Homo sapiens: one gene and its partners. The protein of the gene in region 7 purifies or fractionates together with the protein of the main gene of each other region. This does not show direct contact. Each region holds a gene or a part of one and is shown on either strand. Other genes may lie near its edges. The genes, in order: HBA2, UBR1, CELSR2, EEF1A2, CELSR1, UBR2 and NXPH2.

Region 1 (2,546 bases), on a different chromosome or scaffold from region 7:
CACTGACTGGGCTGCTCTCAGAGGGTCACCGTGACACAGGAAGTGTGAGTAGGGCCAGCACCCTCACTCCAGCCACCTACCCTCTGGCAGGAAGGGGTGGGAATGAGAGAAATGTTCTGGCACCTGCACTTGCACTGGGGACAGCCTATTTTGCTAGTTTGTTTTGTTTCGTTTTGTTTTGATGGAGAGCGTATGTTAACTGGGTTCAACCAGGGAGATTTCAAAGGAGGGTGGCGATGCTGGGACTCCCTGAGTAGAACCCTGGATGCCTCTCTCCTCCCCAGCTTCTGAGCCACTGCCTGCAGGCCTGGCACCTCTCAGGACAGGGGATGGTTCAGCACCTTCTCTTGAGCAGGCCCACCTCAGCTTCCCCTCCCATACTCCCTGCAGTTCTCCCTCCCCAGCCCCATGCAGCTGCAGAGAGGTCCTTGGTCTGAGACAGGTAAACACCTCCATTGTTGGCACATTCCGGGATAGAGAGAACCCAGGCACACACAGGCTGCTGCCCACTCAGACTTTATTCAAAGACCAGGAAGGGCCGGTGCAAGGAGGGGAGGAGGGCCCGTTGGGAGGCCCAGCGGGCAGGAGGAACGGCTACCGAGGCTCCAGCTTAACGGTATTTGGAGGTCAGCACGGTGCTCACAGAAGCCAGGAACTTGTCCAGGGAGGCGTGCACCGCAGGGGTGAACTCGGCGGGGAGGTGGGCGGCCAGGGTCACCAGCAGGCAGTGGCTTAGGAGCTGTGCAGAGAAGAGGGTCAGTGCGGCCCAGGCCCGCAGCCGCCGCCTGCGCTACACCTCCCGCAACCCGCGTGATCCTCTGCCCTGAGAGGAAGGCGCCATCTCGCCCCTCGACCCAGATCGCTCCCGGCCCGCCGCTCACCTTGAAGTTGACCGGGTCCACCCGAAGCTTGTGCGCGTGCAGGTCGCTCAGGGCGGACAGCGCGTTGGGCATGTCGTCCACGTGCGCCACGGCGTTGGTCAGCGCGTCGGCCACCTTCTTGCCGTGGCCCTTAACCTGGGCAGAGCCGTGGCTCAGGTCGAAGTGCGGGAAGTAGGTCTTGGTGGTGGGGAAGGACAGGAACATCCTGCGGGGAGAAGCAGAGTGAGGGGTGGGGTTTGGGTCCGGGGCCAGGACGGTTGAGGGTGGCCTGTGGGTCCGGGCGGGCGAGGAGCCCGGGTCGGAGCAGGGGAGGGAGCCTCACCTCTCCAGGGCCTCCGCACCATACTCGCCAGCGTGCGCGCCGACCTTACCCCAGGCGGCCTTGACGTTGGTCTTGTCGGCAGGAGACAGCACCATGGTGGGTTCTCTCTGAGTCTGTGGGGACCAGAAGAGTGCCGGCCCGCGAGCGCGCCAGGGTTTATGCTTGGGGCGCGGGGGCACGCCCGGCCGGGCGGCGCTCATTGGCTGGCGCGGAGCCCGGGGCGCGGCCTGGACCGCAGGGGAGTCCCGGGCGGGGCCTGCGCGGGGCCGGGCGGCGGGCTCGGCCTCCCCTGGGGGTGCACGCGGGGCGGGGGCCAGGACGTCTCCACCCTCCACCCGCCACTCCACTCCCGCCCATCCCGCTCGCCCGGGGGCAGGGCGGTAGCGGCGCTGGCGGGGCCGGCCCGTTGGGGTCGGGCGCTGTCGGCTCGTGCACCCCGGAGCGCAGCGCCACCCTTTCCTTTCGGGCGCCGGAGCGTCCCTAGCGAGGGAGAAAGTCAGCCCGCACCCCCGCCCCGGCCTGGCACGCGCTGGACGCGCATCGACTCCAGCGGGATCGGGGAACACACGGGCGAGCGAGTGCGAGCCGGAGGGCTTCGCCCAATCCTGGGGCGGAGAGGAATGCGCGCACCCGGACGCCCTGGCCCATAGGAACTCAAAAGAATTTCTGCGCAGAGCCCCTCCTGCTCTCCAGCCTCGCTTCCTGCAGCTCCCTTTCCCTCTGGCGATAGTCACTAGTGTGCTTGAGTGACAGGCACCGGGAAGGAACAAACACCAGGACGCAAAAAGCACGGGGCTGGGCTGGGGGCGGCTCCAGATTCAGACTCCTCTACCCGGGGTTGTGGGGTGGCGCGTGGGGTGGTGGGTGCTGGCTAAGCCCCAAGTCATGGACTCACAGTTTGTGTGACTGACTCTCCCACTGGCCTAGAGGTCGTGGTTCACTGTGACACCCCCAGCTCTCCAAATGCTATCTGATGGAAGACTTGCTAGGTAAATACTGGTTGTAAACAGATAAACAAACTTGGCTCTGGGTAGGGAAAGGACAGGGGAGAGAAGGCCCCTGTGGTTGCAGAATGTAGGTGAGGGGATGTGGGGTGAGGAAGGAAGGGGTGGACTTGGCGAGGGGGAGGGTGGGAGGTGCAGGAGTGCCAGTGGGTGCATCCCTGCTCATGAAAAGTGATGGTTTGGCCAGGCTCGGTGGCTCACGCCTGTAATCCCAGCACTTTGGGAGGCCAAGGCGGGTGGATCAGCTGAGGTCGGGAGTTCGAGACCAGGCTGACCAACATGGAGAAACCCCGTCTCTACTAAAAATACAAAAATTAGCTGGGTGTGGTGGTGCACGCC
Region 2 (3,500 bases), on a different chromosome or scaffold from region 7:
TAGCAAAAAGGAGTTAAAAAAATGTTAACAGCCAGCCGCAGTAGCTCATGACTGTAATCCCAACACTATGGGAGGCCAAAGCAGAAGGACTGCTTGACCCCAGGAGTCCAAGTCAGCCTGGGCAACAAAAAGTGAGACTCCGTCTCTACAAAACAATAAAAAATTTGCCAGGCATGGTGGCACGTGCCTGTGGTCCCAGCTACATGGGAGGCTGAGGCAGGAGGATCACTGGAGCCCAGGAGGTTGAGGCTTCAGTGAGCCATGTTTGCATCACTGCACTCCAGCTTGGGCAACACAGCGAGACCCTGTCTCAAAAAAAAAAAGAAAGAAATTTATGTCAATAGATTGTCTGAAACTATGCACAAAGAGACTATATAGGAAGGACAGAACCAAAGTGTGTGAGTGGAAGTGAATGAAAAGTATGGTAATTACAATGGCAATGCATTTGGTGACCCCAGGAGATCCCAAGTTCCTGTAATGGGCCTCTCCTCAATACCTTCTTTACTAACCAGGTTTTACAACTCAATAAGAAGCCTTCACTGAAGACATTTATTAACGCGAGGCAGTAACAGTTCTTTGTACTTGCCATCATTATAAAGAGAATTCTGGATAACCAAAATGATCACAGGATTACTTATAAGACACAGCAAATAAGCACACTGAGTTTAACAGGTGCCCTCACCTTTTGACTTGAACAACTTACTTTAGGTCACATATTACTGCATATACTCTTCCCAATTTGTCCTGGCTATAACCCTGGAAGTTGAATTTATTGTTCCTGTCCAAGTACTCAGGTAAAACTTCTAGCAGAGTTTCAGTAATGACAGAGATAACATTCTGCTCTTCAATAAGATGTCGAGCCTGCGGAATATTTCAAGAATATTTTCTTTAGCATTAACTCATTGTGGTATGGACTTAATTTATTCATTCATTTGGTTAGTCAGTATGTCATTTTTAATAAATGTTTGTTATTGAATGTTAAACACAGTCCTTAGTTTCACTGAATAGCAACTACTAAGAAGTTATTTTCTAAAAGAAAAAATTCCCTACTCCTCAGTAACTAGACAACACCTATCTGGATACTCCAAGCCCATTAGACAGGTTATCTAGATAAATGTTTATCATCAGTAATGTGGTGGCTCATGCCTGTAATCCCAGGACTTTGGGAGGCCGAGGCAGGCGGATCACCTGAACTCAGGAGTTCGAGACTATCCTGGTCAACATGGCAAAACCCCATCTCCACAAAAAATACAAAAATTAGCCAGGTGTGGTGGCAATGCCTGTAATCTCAGTTATTCAGGAGGCTGAGGCAGGAGAATCGCTTGAACCAGGAGGCGGAGGTTGCAGTGAGCCGAGATCGTGCTACTACACCCCAGCCTGAGTGACAGAGAGAGACTTCATCTCAAAAAAAAAAATCACACAATGAGCAAGTATAACAAAGATATACTTCATGACTTCTAGCACACTACGATCTATTCTGAAATCTCCTCCTTACCCCAATCTAAACTCTCCTCTCCATCCTTTTGAAAAAGTAAAGTAGAAACAATTAACCAAGTTTGGATAACTATCTAATTCCAGACAAGAAAAGAAGTAGGGCTGGGCGCGGTGGCTCACACTTGTAATCCCAGCACTTTGGGAGGCTAAGGCTGGCAGATCACCTGAGGTCAGGAGTTTGAGACCAGCCTGGCCAACATGGTGAAACCCCGTCTCTACTAAAAATACAAAAATCAACCAGGCGTGGTGGTGCCTGCCCGTAGTCCCAGCTACTTGGGTGGCTGAGGCATGAGAATCGCTTGAACCCGGGAGGCGGAGGCTGCAGTGAGCCCAGGTCGTCCCATTGCACTCCAGCCAGGGCAACCCAGCCAAGACTCTGTCTCAAGAAACAAAAAACAAAGAAAAGAAGTGGTATACAAAGGAAGCAGAATCTTCCACTCTCCTCCCAGGCCTATGCAGCACCCTCTCTCCCAAATGCTTGACAGGCACACCCTCCCACTTCTTAGTTTTATCTTATTCTATCTGCCTACAAACAATAACTTAAAAATAAAATATTTTTGGTATTGAAAAGGCAGTGTTCATAAGTTACTCTAGAAAGTAAGAAACCAGCTCTAGGTGTCATCTGCATTGACGAGGACATCTGAACCAAGGCAGCGCCTAGTTAACTAGTCCTTGGGTAGCACTAAAGTATTCACATAGCCCAACTTAGTGATTCTAACATTGTTCTAATTTGATTCAACATTAAGTGGAATTCTTACAAAGCAAAACAAGTTTTACTTAGAAAGACTGAAAAGGAATAATCAATACATACCAGAGTAGGAACAGTAAACATCTGAACTGAAAGTGCAGTTATAGAGATACTTCTGTCATGATCATCACTGATATATTCTTTCTGCAGTTGTTTATAATACTGAAATATATAAGTAGAGAATCAATTATAAATCACTACTAAAGACCTTTAAAAAATCCCAATTTTAATAACTGCTGCAGGTTTGTTTCTATCTATAAAATGTCAAGTAATATAATTCCTATTTATTAAGGCAAGATATTATGATCAGCAAAAATATCTTAGAAGGAGAATAACAAACAACAAATCAAGTAAAAATTCACCTACTCAATTTAGCAGAGATAGAAGTGGAAACTATTAAAATATACACATAGGTTAAAAAACAAACAAACAAACAAACAAAAAACAGAGGACTGCAATGGTATAGTTTATCCTTTCTCCAAACAGAATCTGGGGCAATCTTTAGCAGCTTCCACTCTAATGGTATTGGGCAGGGAATATATTCAAAGTATTTAACAACTGATATGACCCAGAAAAACCAACCAATCAGATTGAATCCAGCCTTAAACAGAATGGATGCTGGCTGCAAATAACTTCTTTCCCATACTGGTACATAACAGCTGCAAAACAACCCTGATATACTGGGAGAACAAAAATAGGAATATACTCAGTCACATAATAGGCATCTATTATGTGTAAGGCACAAAGTTGGATACTTAACCTACTTTAAGTTAGATACTTTACCCTCCAGAATTCCTACAAAGTTTAAGGGGTAACCATGGTGTACAAAAAAAATCATCTAAGTAGGGAGATTAGCTTTTGTATAAGAAAACAAAATTTCATTTCAGATCACACATATGGTCCAATATTCTATATCTGAAGAGTTTTAGAAGAGAACATCTTGAGTTGCCATCACTGCTGAAGGATAAGACATACAACAAATGTCTTAGTTACTTTTAAGTCTGCATATAAAATCCAGGTAATGCAGGTATCTTATCCCACAGTGTCATTTGCCTACAACAATCATTATTTCTTTCTCTGCTTCCAATTCCATCTTGGGTCCTATATCTATCTTAAGTCTTACAGAATTGACTGCAACTCAAAATCAGAGGAAATCAACAAGTATGACTGGCAAGTATGATTGCCTTATATAAGGCAAAATAAAAGATTCAAAGGAGTCCTTGATCTGTATACCCTTGCAATCTAATTTGGTAGATAG
Region 3 (3,500 bases), on a different chromosome or scaffold from region 7:
TCAGCGTTCCCTTAAATCAAGGCCAACACCTTCCATGCCACCAGCTGTTTCCAAGTATCAAATTAATTACATTAATCCTCACAACCAACTTATGACCTAAGTACGGTCATTATCTCCATTTCAAATAACCGAGGGCCAGAAAGGTTAAGTAACTTGTTCAAGGTCACACAGCTACTAGCGGCAAAGCTGATACACGAACACAGGCCGACTGGCTCTGGAGCCAGCTCTGCCCACAATGGCACTGCCTGTGTGTCCTGTGCACAGCAGGGAGAAGCACTCCTTGCACTGCCTTCCTCAGTGGGGTGCTGTCAGGGAGCAGGCCGGATTTATGACCTCTCAGTGTAGCTGCACCTCACTCGGGAAGAGAATGAGGCAGCCGCCAGCATTTGTCCTGATTTGTGCCTGCACCACACAGTCAGCCTTCCAGGGCTGGCCCATGAGTCCCCTCCCTTGGCTCACCCGTGTAGCCATCACGACAGAGGCAGGTGTAGCCGCCCTCGCGGCTGCGGCAGCGCCCGTGGGGGCCACAGGGCCGCGAGTAGCAGAGGTCCACCTCGGTCTCGCAGTAGTCACCCGTGAAGCCGGGCGGGCAGCGGCAGCGCAGCCCTCCGACGGGGTGGATGGGCCGGAAGAGCACGGAGGAGGAGGCGATGAAGGGCGCGGAGGAGTCGAAGCGCAGCACCGACACGCAGCGCATGTAGTTCTCGCAGGGCTCCCGCAGGCAGATGTTGTCGTCGAAGGGCAGCACGCGCTGTGCCGAGATGGCCGTCAGCAGGCTGCGGTTGAGGTATAGGCGCTCCTGCAGGTCCTCAGAGGGCAGGAAGGGCGGCCCGCCCCCGGGCCCTGGCGGCTGGCCCACCGACAGGCTCACGTTGAGGATGTGGCCCCCGGGGGCGTCGGTGTCCCGCTGTACGTTGAAGACCACCACGTGGTCCGGTGGCGTGGCCAGCGTGGCGGCCACCGCCTGGATGAAGAGGCCTAGCAGTGGTGACAGGAAGCGCTCGGGTGACATGTCCTCCAGGCGCAGCGTGATGCTGTGGGTGAGCATCTCATCGGTGATGATGGTCACACGCAGCGCGCACTGGGCGGTCACGCTGTGTACGCCGTCTGTGGAGAGGGACACAGTCAGGACCCAGCCTGGGGCTGCAATTCAGCCTGCATATTCCTGCACCACCCACCAAGAAAGGCTCTCCTTTCCAACTGGCATAAGGGTGCTGAGCCAGGTATGTCACGTGTGGGCCAATCACTCCTTCAGGGCTCAGGGGATGAGATTTGCAGTTCTCTTTGCATCCTTTCCCAAAACCTTCTGTCGCTGATGCACGGCACACCTCTTAATGTTTGTGCACCTTTCCCTGCCCAAGCCACCGCTCCTGCTCCCTTCCCCCAGAGTCTGTGCTGCCTGCGCGGGAACCCTATGTTGTCTTTTTCATACTTTTCTACAGGGCCCAGAGCATCCTGAGACCCACAAAAATCATCCCCCTGCCCCCTCAGCCTCTACACCTCAACACCACGATAATCGCAACCATGGCTGTGTTCCCCACTCCCCCACAGCAGCAGGGAGTTGGCGGGGGTGGGGGGGAGTGGGTAAACTGGGTCAGTGGGCCACCTAGTCCCCCTCCCACTGAGCCCCATGGCTGCTTGGGCGCGCAGACCTGCTATCCCCATGGCAACATCCAACACAAAGCATTCTTCCCGCCCAACTCTCTGGGCTGCTGTGGGTAGCCTGGGGGGCCCCACCCCAGGAAATCCAGCTGAGCCACGTTAACCAGTGACATCATCACCCACTGCCCCATGCTGGAGACAGGGTGAGTCGGGGTGGGGGACCGGAAGGCAGAGATAGAAGGGCCTGGGCAGCTCTCCACTCTGAGACCCCAGAGCCCCACTGAGTCAGTCTCTTCTCTGGTCCTAGGGCCTCTAGCTACTCATCACCCACTTGGCTCAACCATTACACCCAAATGCCTGCTATGCCCCCAGGCAACACACTCACTTATAAACAGCTAAGCACTAAAACACACTTGCTGGTGTCTCATTCCACCCACACACCCTAAGCCCAGAAATACCATACACACCTGAATGCACATACACATGGGAATGAATTTTATTTAGCTAAAAAATGAAAGCTGGGGCCTGGAGAAGGAGGAAATGGCTTTACAGGGCAAGAAGGGATAGTCTTTTTTTTTTTTTTTTTAAGAGACAGACTCTCTGTCGCCTACACTGGAGAGCAGTGGCACGATCATAGCTCACTGTAGCCTCGAACTCCTGGGCTCAAGCGATCCTCCCACCTCAACCTCCCAAATAGCTGAGACCACAGGTGCTCACAACTATGCCTGGCTAATTTTTGTTTGTGTGTAGAGATGGGGTCTTGCTGTGTTGTCCAGGCTGGTCTCAAATTCCTGGCCTCAAGTGATCCTCCATCTCAGCCTTCTAGAGCACTGGGATTACAGGCATGAGCTACTGGCATATTCATATTTGTATTTATTACAATGCCTTACACATAGTAGGTGTTCAGAAAACACTGAGATGTGGATGACAATCTATTCAGTCTCCACAAAGAATAAACGGACTTTAAAACATAGCAGGGGGCCGGGCGCAGTGGCTCACGCCTGTAGTCCCAGAACTTTGGGAGGCTGAGGCGGGTGGATCACGAGGTCAGGAGTTCGAGATCAGACTGACCAACATGGTGAAACCCCGTCTCTACTAAAAATACAAAAATTAGTTGGGCGTGGTGGTGGGTGCCTGTAATCTCAGCTACTCAGGAGGTCCCAGATACTCAGGAGGCTGAGGCAGGAGAATTGCTTGAACCCAGGAGGCAGAGGTTGCAGTGAGCCGAGATCGCGCCATTGTACTCCAGCCTGGGTGACAGAGTGAGACTCTGTCCCAAACAAACAAACAAAACCACATAGCAGGGGGAGCCCAACTAGATATAAAAAGCAAATGCTTACCCTAGCAGTAACGGGGCAGGAGCCCATGTTTCTGGGGTGGGGTGGGAGTAGGCAAGGGACATGGGAACAAATTCTGCATCTGTGTTGTACCTACTTGCGGTGGCTGACTGTACCAGCGGTGGCTCAGCTGAAGCCGGGAAGGCTGAAAGCAGACCCCCATCTCAGCCATGTCCTCAGCCGACTGCCCACCTACCCTCCAGCCTCATCACTTGCTTATTCTCACTAGCTCTCACCAGCAAGCCTGCTTGTCATCACCCACTTCTGTTCCTCCTGCTCTCGTCTCAAAGCTGCTGCACAGGCTGTTCCTTCCCACCCAGACACCAGCCCACAGTCCTCTGAGTCTTCTAACCTGCCCTAGCTCACCTGCTCCAGGAAGCCTGCCCAGATTTATGTCATCAGGCTCTACTTTCCTCTCCGTTTCAGACTTCCCCGCACCAGGATGCTCAGCTGGCACAGAGCTCTTGTATACCTGGTATATCTGCCTAATGATTCCTTGACGGGATATTCCCTCCAGGCAGAAAGCAGCCCAAGACTCCACACACAGTGCCCATAACTGAT
Region 4 (3,500 bases), on a different chromosome or scaffold from region 7:
TCCTGGGTCCCGGGTCCCGCCCTCAGCCGTGACCCTCACCCGCTCCAGATGGGGAAGGGATCCTTCAAGTATGCCTGGGTGCTGGACAAGCTGAAGGCGGAGCGTGAGCGCGGCATCACCATCGACATCTCCCTCTGGAAGTTCGAGACCACCAAGTACTACATCACCATCATCGATGCCCCCGGCCACCGCGACTTCATCAAGAACATGATCACGGGTACATCCCAGGTGAGCAGGGCACAGCAGGCGGGGCTGGGGGAGAGGCCGCTGCACCCTTCAAGGGACACTGGGGGCCCCTGGGGTCACTGGGATGGTAGGGTCTCCTGTGCTTCCTGTGAGGGCAGGGGACCCCTCACCTGGGCCACCCTCACCCAGTCTGGCTCAGAGCCCCCCTAAGGATGAATCCAGTGCTCTGGCATCTGAACCAGTGCCTGTGAAGGCATCCAGCCAGTGTCAGAGTCCCCAGATAGATGGGGGCAGATGGGGACGTGGACACACCTTCATACATGGAGGGGTTGGAGGCCAGGATGGGGAGAGTGAGCAGTGGGCAGAGGTGCCACCCGCCAGGTGTAGACTGTATGACATTTCAGGGCACTCACAGAGACGCACGGACACCCCAGACACAGCACCCTGCAGACAGCAGGACACATGCCACCACCTCCAAACTGCTTTGATAACTGTGACTTCTATCCGTCCTCAAGTGAGGAACAGGAGCAGATAGGCTGAGTGACTTGTCCAGGGACACACAGCCCACTGGTGGTGGAGCCAGGGCTGAACCTCGGTCCCCTGACCCAGGGCCTGGCGATGAGCCCCCATGCTGCCCTTGAAGTGGGGACCCCCATGCCTCCCTCCCCAAGGCCCCAGTGGGCTGCTCAGGCCCCAGCCCGCTGCCTGGAGAGGCCTGGAAGTGAGGTGGGGCCAGGCTCGCTCTGTCCCCTGCCAGGCAGGCGGGGCAGGGCTCACTGTGTCCCCTGCCGGGCAGGCGGACTGCGCAGTGCTGATCGTGGCGGCGGGCGTGGGCGAGTTCGAGGCGGGCATCTCCAAGAATGGGCAGACGCGGGAGCATGCCCTGCTGGCCTACACGCTGGGTGTGAAGCAGCTCATCGTGGGCGTGAACAAAATGGACTCCACAGAGCCGGCCTACAGCGAGAAGCGCTACGACGAGATCGTCAAGGAAGTCAGCGCCTACATCAAGAAGATCGGCTACAACCCGGCCACCGTGCCCTTTGTGCCCATCTCCGGCTGGCACGGTGACAACATGCTGGAGCCCTCCCCCAACGTGAGTGGCGGCTAGGGCGGGGCGGGCCACGGGAGCTGGCTGGACCCCCTGGCCCAGAGCGAGGCACCGGCAGGTGGCACGGGGAGGTCGAGGGCCTGTCCCCGGGAAATGCAGGTTCCCCTCGAAACCTGCTGGGTTTCCCTAACTGGCTCAGGGCCCGGCGGGGAGCCCCATGCCCCTCAGCACCGGGCTTTGCTCCTACACTCAGCCTCCCACGCGGCTGGCCGGGGCCAGGGCCCATCTACGATGTCAACACAGCAGGGGCAGCGGCCTCCAGCACCAGGCCCATGTGCTTGGTCTCCAGAGCCCTGCCATGGGGGCGGTCGGTTTCATCTCTGCCAGGCCATTGTCCTGGTCCTGGACACCGTGCAGGGGCTTTGGGCTGGGCCGTGGGGGCCTCCTTGGCTGCCTCCCCTGGGATCTTGGAGCAGGGTTGGGCTTTGGGAAGTGTGCATGCTTCTGGGCTTGCTGGGATGGCCAAGGGTTGGCTCTTGGCCGGTCACCTGGGAGCTCAACGTGCGAACAGTCTGTAGCCCAGGGACTCTGCCTTGGCTGGAGGTGACGCGTGGAGACACTTGCAGAACCTGAGACTGTTCCCAGGGTTCTCCAAGCCAGAGGAGACCCCAGAATGGCCACCACTAGGCTCTGCCAGCACTGTCGCTGCCCACAGTGAGGGTGCAGGTGTGGAGTCTAGAGACAGCAGGGAGACAGACCAGCAGCACTGAGCCTGGAGCTGAGGTCTGGGGACAGAACTGGGAGGGACTCCCCCAGCTCCGCCTCCATCTCACGAGGCTCGGTGTTGTTTACCTGTGATGGCGTTTTCCTCATGGGGTATCATGTGGCGAACGCCACTCTCCCCTCCCCAGGGAGGCCTCCAGCCATCAGGGACCCTGCACTCCCCTCTGGCCTGAGCTGCTAGGTGGCTCGTGCTTACACAGGCCCTGGGGGGCTGGGGCACTGTGCTGCCGGCCCCCTCCCCTGCTCCCTGTTTGTGGCAGGTGGCCCAGAGGGAGGCTTCATGGGATGGGAGTGGGGGCCACACTAGGAGAAGCTCCGGACAAGGCTGGGCCAAGCTCGGAGGCAGCACGGTGTCCAGAAGCTAGGGTGGGGCGAGGCTCCTCCAGCTCTGTCCCTGGCCTGGCCCTTGGCCAGACTCAGCATCCTCCTAGTCAAGTCATCTGCCCTGCCTGGAGCTGATGGTCAGGGGCCCGGGGTTTCGGGGACTTGGGGCTGGACTGGGGATTTGTTCACAGTGTCAGCAACTCCTGAGCAGCCTGGGCTGGGAAGGGTGCTTTCCCTCTTTGTCCTCCTCCTTTTAAGAGGGATCTCCTTCCCAGAGTCCCTGTGATGCTGGGGCTATGGGCTGGGGAGGAGCAGGGTGGGGAAATTCCTCATCTCAAAGGGCACGAGGCAAGTTTAGCCTGAACAGCAGTACTCCTGGAAGCACCCTGGGGAGGCCTGAGGGTGGGGAGGCCACCAATGTCTCTTAACGGATTGATTTTCTCCCTTTGGTCCAGATGCCGTGGTTCAAGGGCTGGAAGGTGGAGCGTAAGGAGGGCAACGCAAGCGGCGTGTCCCTGCTGGAGGCCCTGGACACCATCCTGCCCCCCACGCGCCCCACGGACAAGCCCCTGCGCCTGCCGCTGCAGGACGTGTACAAGATTGGCGGTGAGCAAGGGCGCTGTGCTGGAGCTCCTGCCTGGCCAGCTCTGCCTGCCCTAGACCAGGGGCCCCTACAAGGCATCTCAAGACTGGGCTGTCTCCAATCTCTCCCCTTACCACACACTTTCTGTGGGACAGTCCATCCCACATCCATCCATCCATCCACCCACCTCCCCACCCATCCATCCTCTGTCCATCCATCCACCCATCCATCTATCCACCTCTCCATCCATCTATCTATCCATCCATCCATCCATCGATCCATCCATCTCCCCACCCATCCATCCTTCACTCCATCCATCCATCCATCCATTGTCCCATCCATCCTTCTCTCTATCGAACCATCCCTCCATCTCTCCATCTATCCACCTCCCCACCCATCCATCCTTCTGTCCATCAATCCATCCATCCATCCATCCATCCACCTCTCCATCCATCCATCCATCTCCCCACCCATCCATCCTTCTCTCTATCCATCCATCCATCCATCCATCCATTGATTGTCCCACCCATCCATCCTTCTCTCTATCCCTCCATCCATCCATCCATGCATCCATCC
Region 5 (3,500 bases), on a different chromosome or scaffold from region 7:
AGACGGGGTTTTACCACGTTGGCCAGGCTGGTCTCGAACTCCTGACCTCAGGTGATCTGCCCGCCTCGGCCTCCCAAAGTGCTGGGATTACAGGCGTGAGCCGCCGCGCCTGGCCTGGATTTTGATTTTTTTATTGTTTCATGCTTACGCTCCAATGAGCATTTCCTTTAAGTGTCAGGTTGGTGCTCAAGAAGGTTCAGGTTCTGGGGCATTTCAGATTTCAGGATTAGGATGTTCAGCCTGTACCTGAGCACTTGAACAAAACAACCTGCTGTCACCAACAGGACCTGGCACCAGAGAGCACTCGGAACACTCTGGCCCAGATCTTCAGTGCGCAGGTCCTGCGATGCCCGCAGCGGGGCCCTCCCCTCCCTGAACGCTGGGGACTCCGAGGGCAGCAGCAGGTTTCTAAGCGGTTTTACCTTTTTCTTCAGGTGGTCTGAAGAAGTCGGCTGGGAAGGAGACGGAGGACTCCAGCTCCCTGGGGAACTCTTCATGGATGGTGTCGAATCGCGGGACCCTGGCTCCCGTAAAGTTGAACTTGTCAAAGATGTCGACAGCAAGAACTGGGGGGACAGTTCCTTTAATCAGACATAACTCCCAGGGCTTTCTTGAACCCCTGCTGTTTTCAAAATGACCACAACTGTCACACTGACGCTGGCTGGCCATATTTATTTATTTATTTTTGAGGTGGAGTCTCGCAGTGTCTCCCAGGCTGGAGTGCAGTAGCGCAATCTCAGCTCACTGCAACCTCCGCCTCCCAGATTCAAGCAATATCTCCTGCCTCAGCCTCCCAAGTAGCTGGGATTACAGGCAGGCACCACCACGCCTGGCTAATTTTTTGTATTTTTGGTAGAGATGGGATTTCATCATGTCGGCCAGGCTGGTCTCAAACTCCTGACCTCAAGTAATTTGCATGCCCCGGCTTTCCAAAGTGCTGGGATTACAGGCATGAGCCACCACGCCCAGCCTATTTACTTATATTTATTTTTGAGACAGGATCTCACTCTATCACCCAGGCTGGAGTGCAGTAGCACAATCTCAGCTCACTGTAGCCTCGTCCTCCTGCGCTCAAGCGATCCTCCCACCTCAGCCTCAAGTAGCTGGGAATACAGGAGCATGCTACCACACCTGGCTAATTTTTATTTTTTATTTTTAATAGAGACAGGGTCTCACTATGGCGCCTGGCTGGTTTCGAACTCCTGGGCTCAAGCAATCTGCCCATCTCAGCCTCCCAGTGCTGGGATTACAGGTGTGAACTACCACGCCCAGCTGACTGACCATCTTTAGAACAGAACTGACTTCCAACTTCCTGCATCCCGCCTGTACTTACACCTGTCTACAGTGAGCCTGGAGTGAGGCGGGGTCCTCGACACCCACCCTTCTAGAGTCTCACACCTGAGGGTTTGGAAGCCCTGCCGGACCCCCAAGATCATGGCCCAACATCTCCCTAGCCCGGGACCTGTCCCCTGGGAGCCACGGGTACGTCATCACAGACTGTCTTCCCAAAGGCTCCATTTACAGATGAGGAAACAGAGGCCTACCTGCCGAATATTTTTTTTTTTTTTTTTTTTTGAGACGGAGTCTGGCTCTCTCGCCCAGGCTGGAGTGCAGTGGCATGATCTCGGCTCACTGCAAGCTCCGCTTCCCGGGTTCACGCCATTCTCCTGCCTCAGCCTCCCGAGTAGCTGGGACTACAAACGCCCACCACCACGACCGGCTACTTTTTTGTATTTTTAGTAGAGACGGGGTTTCACCATGTTAGCCAGGATGGTCTTGATCTCCTGACCCTGTGATCCGCCCACCTTGGCCTCCCAAATTGCTGGGATTACAGGCGTGAGCCACCGCGCCCGGCTTTTTTTTTTTTGAGATGGAGTCTCGCTCTGTCACCCATGCTGGAGTGCAATGGCGCAATCTCAGCTCACTGCAACCTCTGCCTCCCAGGTTCAAGTGATTCTCCTTCCTCAGCCTCCTGAGTAGCTGGGATTACAGGCATGCACCACCACACCTGGCTACTTTTTGTATTTTTAGTAGAGATGGGGTTTCACCATTTTGCCCAGGCTGGTCTCCAACTCCTGACCTCATGTGGTCTGCCTGTCCCGATCTCCCAAAGTGCTGGGATTACAGGTATGAGCCACTGTGCCCGGCCTCACAATCATTTTTCTAAGAGCATGGCCAAGGGGGGGCCGGGAGCCCACCTGCTTCACCCCATGGGGGCCTAGCTCTGGGGCACACCCCTGATGGTAGCAGGGTTCCACCCCCAACGCAGCCAGCGCCTTACTCATGTTGGCGGTGACGATGACGAAGGGCCGCAGGTACGTCCGCCGCACGTTGCGTGCCACGTTGCTGAAGTAGCCCTCGAGGCGCCGGAGCAGCTGTGCCGTGCCGCCCTCGCTCCGCTGGATCTGCTCCCACGCCGCCCTGGTGGCTGGGGCCAGGAGGGCGCTGCCCGAGTGGATGACGTCCTGGTCAGACAGACAGCACTCAGTACTCAGCCTGCGGAGGCCTGGCTCGTGGGACGGAGGGACACCTGCCCTGAAAGCCTTTGCTTGCCTAGTGGGCTCATTCATTCATTCCAGCCCTACACTTTAGACTGTGCTCTTTAATATTAGTTGTTTTTTGTTTTTTGTTGTTTTTTGTGTTTTTTTTTGAGACACACTTCCGCTCTTGTCGCCCAGGCTGGAATGCAGTGGTGTCATCTCGGCTCACTGCAACCTCCGCCTCCTGGGTTCAAGGAATTCTCTTGCTTCAACCTCCCGAGTAGCTGGGATTACAGGCACACATGTGCCACCACACCCGGCTAATTTTTGTATTTTTAGTAGAGACGGGGCTTCACCATGTTGGCCAGGCTGGTTTTGAACTCCTGACCTCAGGTGATTCACCTGCCTCGGCCTCCCAAAGTGCTGGGATTACAGGCGTGAGCCACCACGCCTGGCCTAGTTCCCAAATATTTTTTCAAAAAGTTTATCTTAAGAGGAATAAAAAAATGTTACTAAGCTCACAAAGTATATTAAAATCTAGAGAATTAAAGATGCTTCATATTCTTAGCTTAATTTACTAGATGTACAAGCACTGCTTAAATGCTTGGAAGGTCTGTTTGCTAGCCGAACAATTGAAATACAAAACAAAAAATCAACTACATGACATATATTAATTCCATTTAAAATACTTAGGGGAATTTCATGGTCTAAGTTTATAAATAGGATCAAACATTAATCAAAGTTGAATTCAAATAGATAAGGAAGTCTTTTTGTTTGTTTGTTTTGTTTTTGTTTTTTGAGACAGAGTTTCACTTTGTTGTCCAGCCTGGAGTGCAGTGGCACAGTCTTGGCTCACTGCAGCCTCTGCCTCCCGGGTTCAAGCAATTCTCGTGCCTCAGCCTCCCACCACCCCGCCCAGCTGATTTTTTTCATATTTTAGAAGAGACAGGGTTTCACCATGTTGCCCAGGCTGGTCTCGAACTCCTGGGCTCAGGCAATCTGCCCATCTCGGCCTCCCAA
Region 6 (3,500 bases), on a different chromosome or scaffold from region 7:
GTAACCAACATTTGTATTCAGTTCCAAATAGAATGAAGTCTTATAGTACTGATATTTAAACCACTATTAGGAGGAAGTTATCCATTAAAAAATTGTGCACAAACTAGGAAATAGGTTGAATCGAGTCAAATTTGTGTCCCCTGATCCCTTTGAGACATTTGCCTTTTTCTGGCATTAATAGTACAGCACAATTAAACAGACATTTATTGAGGACCTAATACGTATAAGAAATTATCAAGGTACTGGGGGGATGACTAAGCTATGGATACAACCTATGCTCCAGAGGAGCCCACACTCATGTCATGCCTCTGCTTCAAACCCTGAAATGGCTTACACCTTGCCCAGAGATGTCACCAGCACACAGCAGGCCCCTGGATTCTCTCACCTGTGCACAACACTCCAGTGACACGCGCCTCCTTGCCTTGAGCAGACAGGCACATTTCTACCCCAGGAACTGTGCAGAATGTTCTGAGTAGAATGTTCTCCCACTTCTTTAGGTCTTTACTCAGAAGTCATGTTCTTAGGAAGCCTTCCCTGATCTACTAAAATTAAATCTCAAATTTAGCTCCATAGCTGCCATTTCATATTCCCCTTCCCTGCTTTATTTTTTCTCCTTAGCCTATATCACTATCTAAATTCTTGTCAGTCTTGCTTGTCCTCTCTCTCATACAAAACAAGCTCCATCCATAAGGGCAGAGATCTTTGCACTGTGGACTACTGCATCCTCAATGCCTGGTACATAGTAGTCACTAATCACAAGCTGGCATGTAGAGTTGTGATAATATGTATAAGTGGAGGTAAAATCCAAAAGCCATGAGGACATAACAGAAAGAGTAATTCTGACTGGATTTGTTCAGAAAATCAGAGAAGTTTCACATTAGTGGGAGACATGGAGAAAGTAGAACAGAACTGTCACCTATGGTTGAGGGAAGAGGAGTGGGAATGGTAACAATAAAAGAACCAACACAGAGTTGGCATGGACCAGATGTGAGATGTGAGGCGACAAGGAGCTCCACGTTTCTGGAATGAATCACACGGAACAGTAGTCTCAAAATTCCTGGCAATATAGTAGTTTCCTGTGACACCCTAACAGTCAGATACTGAGGCAGATCCAAAGCTAAAAAGCCCCTGCAGGTCCTTACCTCAGGAAGATGCCCACTCCAGAGCCACAGGAGTAGGTGTGAGCTGTGCAGGCTCCTACATCCTCCCCTTCCAGTTCAGTCTGGCAGCAGTAACTCTGGGAGCACAGCAGAGATCCGCACACAAGGCACAGAGTTGGGGCTCTGCTCTTATCACCACCTGATTTCGGGCACCTCCAAGGGATAAAAAACCCACAAGTCATTGATCTAAAGAGTGGCTAAAGAGCTAGTGATGAAAAAACCAGCCCAGAAAAGAATTCTGCAATATCAAGTAAAGCCAAAGAAGTGTATATCCTACAGTCTATGCAAGTTTATTCCTAGAATCTGGAATAGGAAACATCTTGCACATATATACAAAGACCATGTACTGGAAACACTCAAAAGAATCAGTAACTGGAGAAAAAAAAATAAATAAAATCATCAATAGGAGAAAAAGATAAACGGTACCACTGCCATATAATAAAATACTATGGAGCAATGAAAAATCAATAAAGTTATAAACGTCAATACAGATAAATCTTAGAAACAATGCTGAATGAATGCAAAATTGGCTGGGTGCAGTGGCTCACGCCTGTAATCCCAGCACTTTGGGAGGCAAAGGTGGGTGGATCAACTGAGGTCAGGAGTTTGAGACCAGCCTGACCAATATGGTGAAACCCCGTCTCTACTAAAAATACAAAAATTAGCCAGGCATGGTGGTGTGCACCTGTAGTCCCAGCTACTTTGGAGGCTGAGACTGGAGAATCACTTGAACCTGGGAGGCGGAGGTTGCTGTGAGCCAAGATCACACCACTGCACTCCAGCCTGGGCAACAGAGTGAGACCCTGTCTCAATAAATAAATAAATAAATAAATAAATAAAATAAAATACAACATACAGCTCTCCCTCTCCCTCTCTTCTCTCCCTCTCCCCTTTGCACAGTCTCCCTCTGATGCCGAGCCGAGGCTGGACTGTACTGCCGCCATCTTGGCTCACTGCAACCTCCCTGCCTGATTCTCCTGTCTCAGCCTGCCCAGTGCCTGGGATTGCAGGCGCGCGCCGCCACGCCTGACTGGTTTTTGTATTTTTTGGTGGAGACGGGGTTTCGCCGTGTTGGCCGGGCTGGTCTCCAGCTCCTGACGGCGAGTGATCTGCCAGCCTCGGCCTCCCGAGGTGCCAGGATTGCAGAGGGAGTCTTGCTCACTCAGTGCTCAATGTTGCCCAGGCTGGAGTGCAGTGGCGCGATCTCGGCTCGCTACAACCTCCACCTCCCAGCCGCCTGCCTTGGCCTCCCAAAGTGCGGAGATTGCAGCCTCTGCCCGGCCGCCACCCCGTCTAGGAAGTGACGAGCGTCTCTGCCCGGCCGCCCAGTCTGAGAAGTGAGGAGCCCCTCTTCCTGGCCGTCATCCCGTCTAGGAAGTGAGGAGCGTCTCTGCCCGGCCGCCCATCGTCTGGGATGTGGGGAGCGCCTCTGCCCCGCCGCCCCGTCTGGGATGTGAGGAGCGCCTCTGCCCGGCCGCGACCCTGTCTGGGAGGTGAGGAGTGTCTCCGACCGGCTGCCCCGTCTGAGAAGTGAGGAGCCCCTCCGCCCGGCAGCCGCCCCGTCTGGGAAGTGAGGAGCGTCTCCGCCCAGCAGCCGCCCAGTCCGGGAGGTGGGGGGCAGCCCCTACCCGGCCAGCTGCCCCGTCCGGGAGGTGGGGGGCAGCTCCCACCCGGCCAGCCGCCCCGTCCGGGAGGTGGGGGGCGCCTCTGCCCGGCTGCCCCGTCTGGGAAGTGAGGAGCCTCTCTACCTGGCCGCCACCCCATCTGGGAGGTGCAACCAACAGCTCATTGACAACAGGCCGTGATGACGATGGCGGTTTTGTCGAATAGAAAAGGGGGAAATGTGGGGAAAAGAAAGAGAGATCAGATTGTTACTGTGTCTGTGTAGAAAGAAGTAGACATAGGAGACTCCATTTTGTTCTGTACTAAGAAAAATTCTTCTGCCTTGGGATGCTGTTAATCTATAACCTTACCCCCAACCCCGTGCTCTCTGAAACATGTGCTGTGTCCACTAAGGGTTAAATGGATTAAGGGCGGTGCAAGATGTGCTTTGTTAAACAGATGCTTGAAGGCAGCATGCTCGTTAAGAGTCATCACCACTCCCTAATCTCAAGTACCCAGGGACACAAACACTGCGGAAGGCCGCAGGGACCTCTGCCTAGGAAAACCAGAGACCTTTGTTCACATCTTTATCTGCTGACCTTCCCTCCACTATTGTCCTATGACCCTGCCAAATCCCCCCCTCCGAGAAACACCCAAGAATGATCAATAAATACTAATTAAAAAAAAAACATACAAAATAACAATACATGCTGCTCAAGAATAGAAACTTATATAGTT
Region 7 (3,500 bases):
TACTTAGTAAAGTTTATGTTAAAGTTGGAAACATGAGAACATGCTTAATTTCAGAATTATTCAATAATATTTTGAAGATTCTATACAGTTCTCTAGGAGAGTAAATTTTAATATGAGACATAATGTTCAATAAAAAGAGTCAAATATAAGATTATTTGCAGATGATATGATTGTCTAGACATAAAATCCAGGGGAATCAAATAAAAAATATTACAACTAATAACTGAGTTCAGAAATAGAACAGATACAAACATAAACATACAAAAATAAATAGTTTTCCTTACATTCCAGCAAAAATGAATTTTAAAATGTCAGCCATAAAAAAGATATCCATAACAACCTAATAATGTACCAGATATTCAGGAATAATAAAGAACAATTGTGCGTGAGCAATATTAAAAAGAAACTATAAAATTTAAAGGCTGTAAAAAACTGAAACACAGGAAATTACTTAAAAAGGCAATTCACAAAATAAGAAATACAAATGGTTATTAAATGTGAAAACATGCTTTATATACCTGATAAGTAATACAGTATACAATACATGTTAAAAACAATGAAGTACTTTCCTTTAATAGATTGTCAAAAATTTTTTTTTAAATACCAGTATTCAGGTAGTGTGATACAGGCATGCACATACAATGTAATACCTTATATTGGTACAATCATTTCAGAAAACATTTATAATTATCAAAATTCAATATATACATTCTCAATTGAACCAACATTTTCAATTCTAGGAATTTGTGTTACAGGTATACTTACAACTATATTAAAGAATTCAAAACAATTTAAATATTAATTAGAAAGATTAAATATATTATGGCATATCAATGCCATGAAATACAGTGAATCTTTAAAAATATAAGTTGCTCTATCAAAGTAGCCAAAATATGCTATTGCATTAAAAAAGCTTGTTACAGAACATGGTACTGTGCATGATATAATTATTATAAAAGCATACATATCCATAATATCTGGAAAGACATACGTTAAACTATTAATAATGCCCTGAGTATAAGGTATGAGGTGGCAGAAAGCAGGCAGGGGTGAGGATGGCTACTTAAAGAAATTCTGAGTAGTACTAAAAAAAAAAAAAATTAAACAGAAATCTTAGATGGAGTTCCCCAGAAGGACAGGCTGAAGCAAGTATTTGAGGGCTATTGATTTAAAACAGAAGCACTTCCGGGGAAGCCTTGCTAAGGGAGCAGGGCAGCTGGTGAAAGAATGGGAAAAAAGTCATGGAAGTGCGTGATCTCAGGCAAAGTCTTGCAGAGGGTAGCTTCAGCCTGCTCCTGCAGGGAAGACCGAGATTATCTGTTTCACCTCAGTTATATCTGGGAGCTGTCCAGAGTCGGGGCAAGGCAGCTGGGCTTTCATACTCTGACATCTGTCAGTCACTAGTCAAGAGCTTTCCAGAGGAAGTGAATGGCACCTGTGGCTCTGAGTGCATTCTGGCAAAGTGCCTCCCCAAAAGAAATCTGGGTGGAGAACCAATAACATCCACTACAATATTACTTTTATAATAAAATACATATTTTCATTAAAAGAAAGAAAAAGAGAGCAAAAGCCATGTGCTACTAGTAAAGTAAAATTATATATTAATGCTCTCAAATTCTACACAAGTCTGGGCACCTACTAGACAGGTTCCCTCACCCACCTGCTTGTCCTCATATTCCTACCTGTCCACTAGAAAACCAGGGTTTAGCAGCCCGTGAACCCACACTTTCTCTCTCCTTTTTATCTTTTCCATCTGGAGTGGTATAGGTGAGATCCTGAAAAGTTAGAGGAACTCTCAAAACCTCTGCTGATCCTAACTGGAGCCACATTACTTGGCTACTAACTTAACATGAAAATGGCATTAAAGCTGAGACCCTTGGCAACTGGCCTCCATGAGGTTAAATTTTATTATTTATTTATTTAGAGACAGAGTTGCACTCTTATTGCCCAAGCTGGAGTGCAATGGCACGATCTTGGCTCAACACAACCTCTGCCTCTTGGATTCAAGCAATTCTCCTGCCTCAGCCTCCCAGGTAGCTGGGATTACAGGCATGCGCCACCACGCCTGGCTAATTTTGTATTTTTTAGTAGAGACGGGGTTTCTCCATGTTGGTCAAGCTGGTCTCGAACTCCCGACCTCAGGTGATCTCCCCACCTCGACCTCTCAAAGTGCTGGGACTACAGGGGTGAGCCACCGCGCCCGGCCCATGAGGTTAAATTCTAAATAGAACTCCAGATTAAAGAAATGCCCCAAGAATTCATTTGTTCTATTCAACTTATTTGACTTTATGGCAAAGCTAAGATGAATGAATTAAGGTTTCTAGCTCAGTGGTCACTGAGCAGAGTGGGATGTTTCCTAGAAATGTCCCTCAAGTCCATCACTCTGGGTGTCAGTGATGAGTACCTAGAAAGACAGCACTCATCATCAAAGTGGATGATTCGAATTTACAATCTGTGCAGTCTACAGTCTGTCTCTGAAACCTGTGGTGTGCTTTTGTTGCTTCACCTGTAAAATGGATGCAATAACTATCATTCTACTTACTTTTCAGAGCTGATGCACAGATTAACCACGAAAGAATTTTGCAAACCATGTAGTGCTTTACATCCTGTCACTTGTCTTAGCACAAAGGCTCCAAACATTAAAAATGGGATGGTGGTGACTTCAAGATCCAAATCCATGAATGTTGGAAGGCACTTGTTCAGCACAGATGTGTGTGGCCTTGCACATGTTGAGTGTGAGTTAACAGTAAAACATCCAAGTAAAACAGAACAGTAAGTTATGGAGACACCGGCTTGGAGCCTGAGCAACAGGGTAGGAACTGAGATACAAGCTGGAGAGTCAGCAACACAGGAGCAACAGGTAAATTCGAGACTACGGAAAACACGCTTTTGAAAACTTCATCTTTTTTTCCATTTCCATAGCCATATTCCTCAAGCCAATCCCAATCGTCTCCTGTTTGAACTATCCAAGTGCAAAACTTCATTAATACATATTCCTGTTATCATTACTACAAAATGTTAAATGATGCTTTATGGTCCCTAGTCGTTTATTGTATGCATTATCCATTGAAAAGATCATACAGATTTTTATACTAATCAACCACTTTCAGTAGCTGTCTACACACACAAATGAGGAATGGAATTTGGGAATAGAAATCACATGTGTTTTTAACAGCCATACTACATAAGTGTTCTTTCCCTTTGAATAATATACATTATTTCTTAAATTACTGTTTTGGGCGAATAAATATACCTGCTATATAACTTAAATTGATAAGATTTAAAAATTATCATTATATATGATAAAGCTTGAAAATCATAATCTTGCATATTCTTGCATGAAAAGACTTACACAATTTATGTAAATTTTGTTTTTAATGACCTTAGAATCACTTTATGTGGCAAAAAAGCAGCAATATCTCAAAGTCAAGTTTCATTTGTAGAGACATTTACGTGCTTACAGTTGGATTGAATCCCAGGAATAGTTAGTCTTTCTGTTT

The links.
Region 1: the proteins of NXPH2 (region 7) and HBA2 purify together in Homo sapiens (affinity purification with mass spectrometry, with the first as the bait; 3 studies listed by BioGRID). This does not show direct contact.
Region 2: the proteins of NXPH2 (region 7) and UBR1 purify together in Homo sapiens (affinity purification with mass spectrometry; 3 studies listed by BioGRID and IntAct, with this or other methods). This does not show direct contact.
Region 3: the proteins of NXPH2 (region 7) and CELSR2 purify together in Homo sapiens (affinity purification with mass spectrometry; 3 studies listed by BioGRID and IntAct, with this or other methods). This does not show direct contact.
Region 4: the proteins of NXPH2 (region 7) and EEF1A2 purify together in Homo sapiens (affinity purification with mass spectrometry; 3 studies listed by BioGRID and IntAct, with this or other methods). This does not show direct contact.
Region 5: the proteins of NXPH2 (region 7) and CELSR1 purify together in Homo sapiens (affinity purification with mass spectrometry; 3 studies listed by BioGRID and IntAct, with this or other methods). This does not show direct contact.
Region 6: the proteins of NXPH2 (region 7) and UBR2 purify together in Homo sapiens (affinity purification with mass spectrometry; 2 studies listed by BioGRID and IntAct, with this or other methods). This does not show direct contact.

What each region holds. Positions count from the first base shown.
Region 1 is NC_000016.10:171,665-174,210, reverse strand, and holds HBA2 (hemoglobin subunit alpha), read right to left. Parts: upstream 1,336-2,546; 5' UTR 1,299-1,335; coding exon 1,204-1,298; intron 1,087-1,203; coding exon 882-1,086; intron 740-881; coding exon 611-739; 3' UTR 501-610; downstream 1-500. UniProt on the Homo sapiens protein: Involved in oxygen transport from the lung to the various peripheral tissues.
Region 2 is NC_000015.10:43,054,039-43,057,538, forward strand, and holds part of UBR1 (E3 ubiquitin-protein ligase UBR1), read right to left. Parts: intron 2,405-3,500; coding exon 2,306-2,404; intron 862-2,305; coding exon 704-861; intron 1-703. UniProt on the Homo sapiens protein: E3 ubiquitin-protein ligase which is a component of the N-end rule pathway. Recognizes and binds proteins bearing specific N-terminal residues that are destabilizing according to the N-end rule, leading to their ubiquitination and subsequent degradation.
Region 3 is NC_000001.11:109,256,039-109,259,538, reverse strand, and holds part of CELSR2 (cadherin EGF LAG seven-pass G-type receptor 2 precursor), read right to left. Parts: intron 1,108-3,500; coding exon 460-1,107; intron 1-459. UniProt on the Homo sapiens protein: Receptor that may have an important role in cell/cell signaling during nervous system formation.
Region 4 is NC_000020.11:63,492,584-63,496,083, reverse strand, and holds part of EEF1A2 (elongation factor 1-alpha 2), read left to right. Parts: intron 1-48; coding exon 49-228; intron 229-982; coding exon 983-1,279; intron 1,280-2,796; coding exon 2,797-2,947; intron 2,948-3,500. UniProt on the Homo sapiens protein: Translation elongation factor that catalyzes the GTP-dependent binding of aminoacyl-tRNA (aa-tRNA) to the A-site of ribosomes during the elongation phase of protein synthesis.
Region 5 is NC_000022.11:46,384,121-46,387,620, forward strand, and holds part of CELSR1 (cadherin EGF LAG seven-pass G-type receptor 1 isoform 1 precursor), read right to left. Parts: intron 2,466-3,500; coding exon 2,282-2,465; intron 567-2,281; coding exon 423-566; intron 1-422. UniProt on the Homo sapiens protein: Receptor that may have an important role in cell/cell signaling during nervous system formation.
Region 6 is NC_000006.12:42,686,029-42,689,528, reverse strand, and holds part of UBR2 (E3 ubiquitin-protein ligase UBR2), read right to left. Parts: intron 1,314-3,500; coding exon 1,143-1,313; intron 543-1,142; coding exon of another isoform or gene 521-542; exon of another isoform or gene 1-520. UniProt on the Homo sapiens protein: E3 ubiquitin-protein ligase which is a component of the N-end rule pathway.
Region 7 is NC_000002.12:138,770,391-138,773,890, forward strand, and holds part of NXPH2 (neurexophilin-2 precursor), read right to left. Parts: intron 1-3,500. UniProt on the Homo sapiens protein: May be signaling molecules that resemble neuropeptides and that act by binding to alpha-neurexins and possibly other receptors.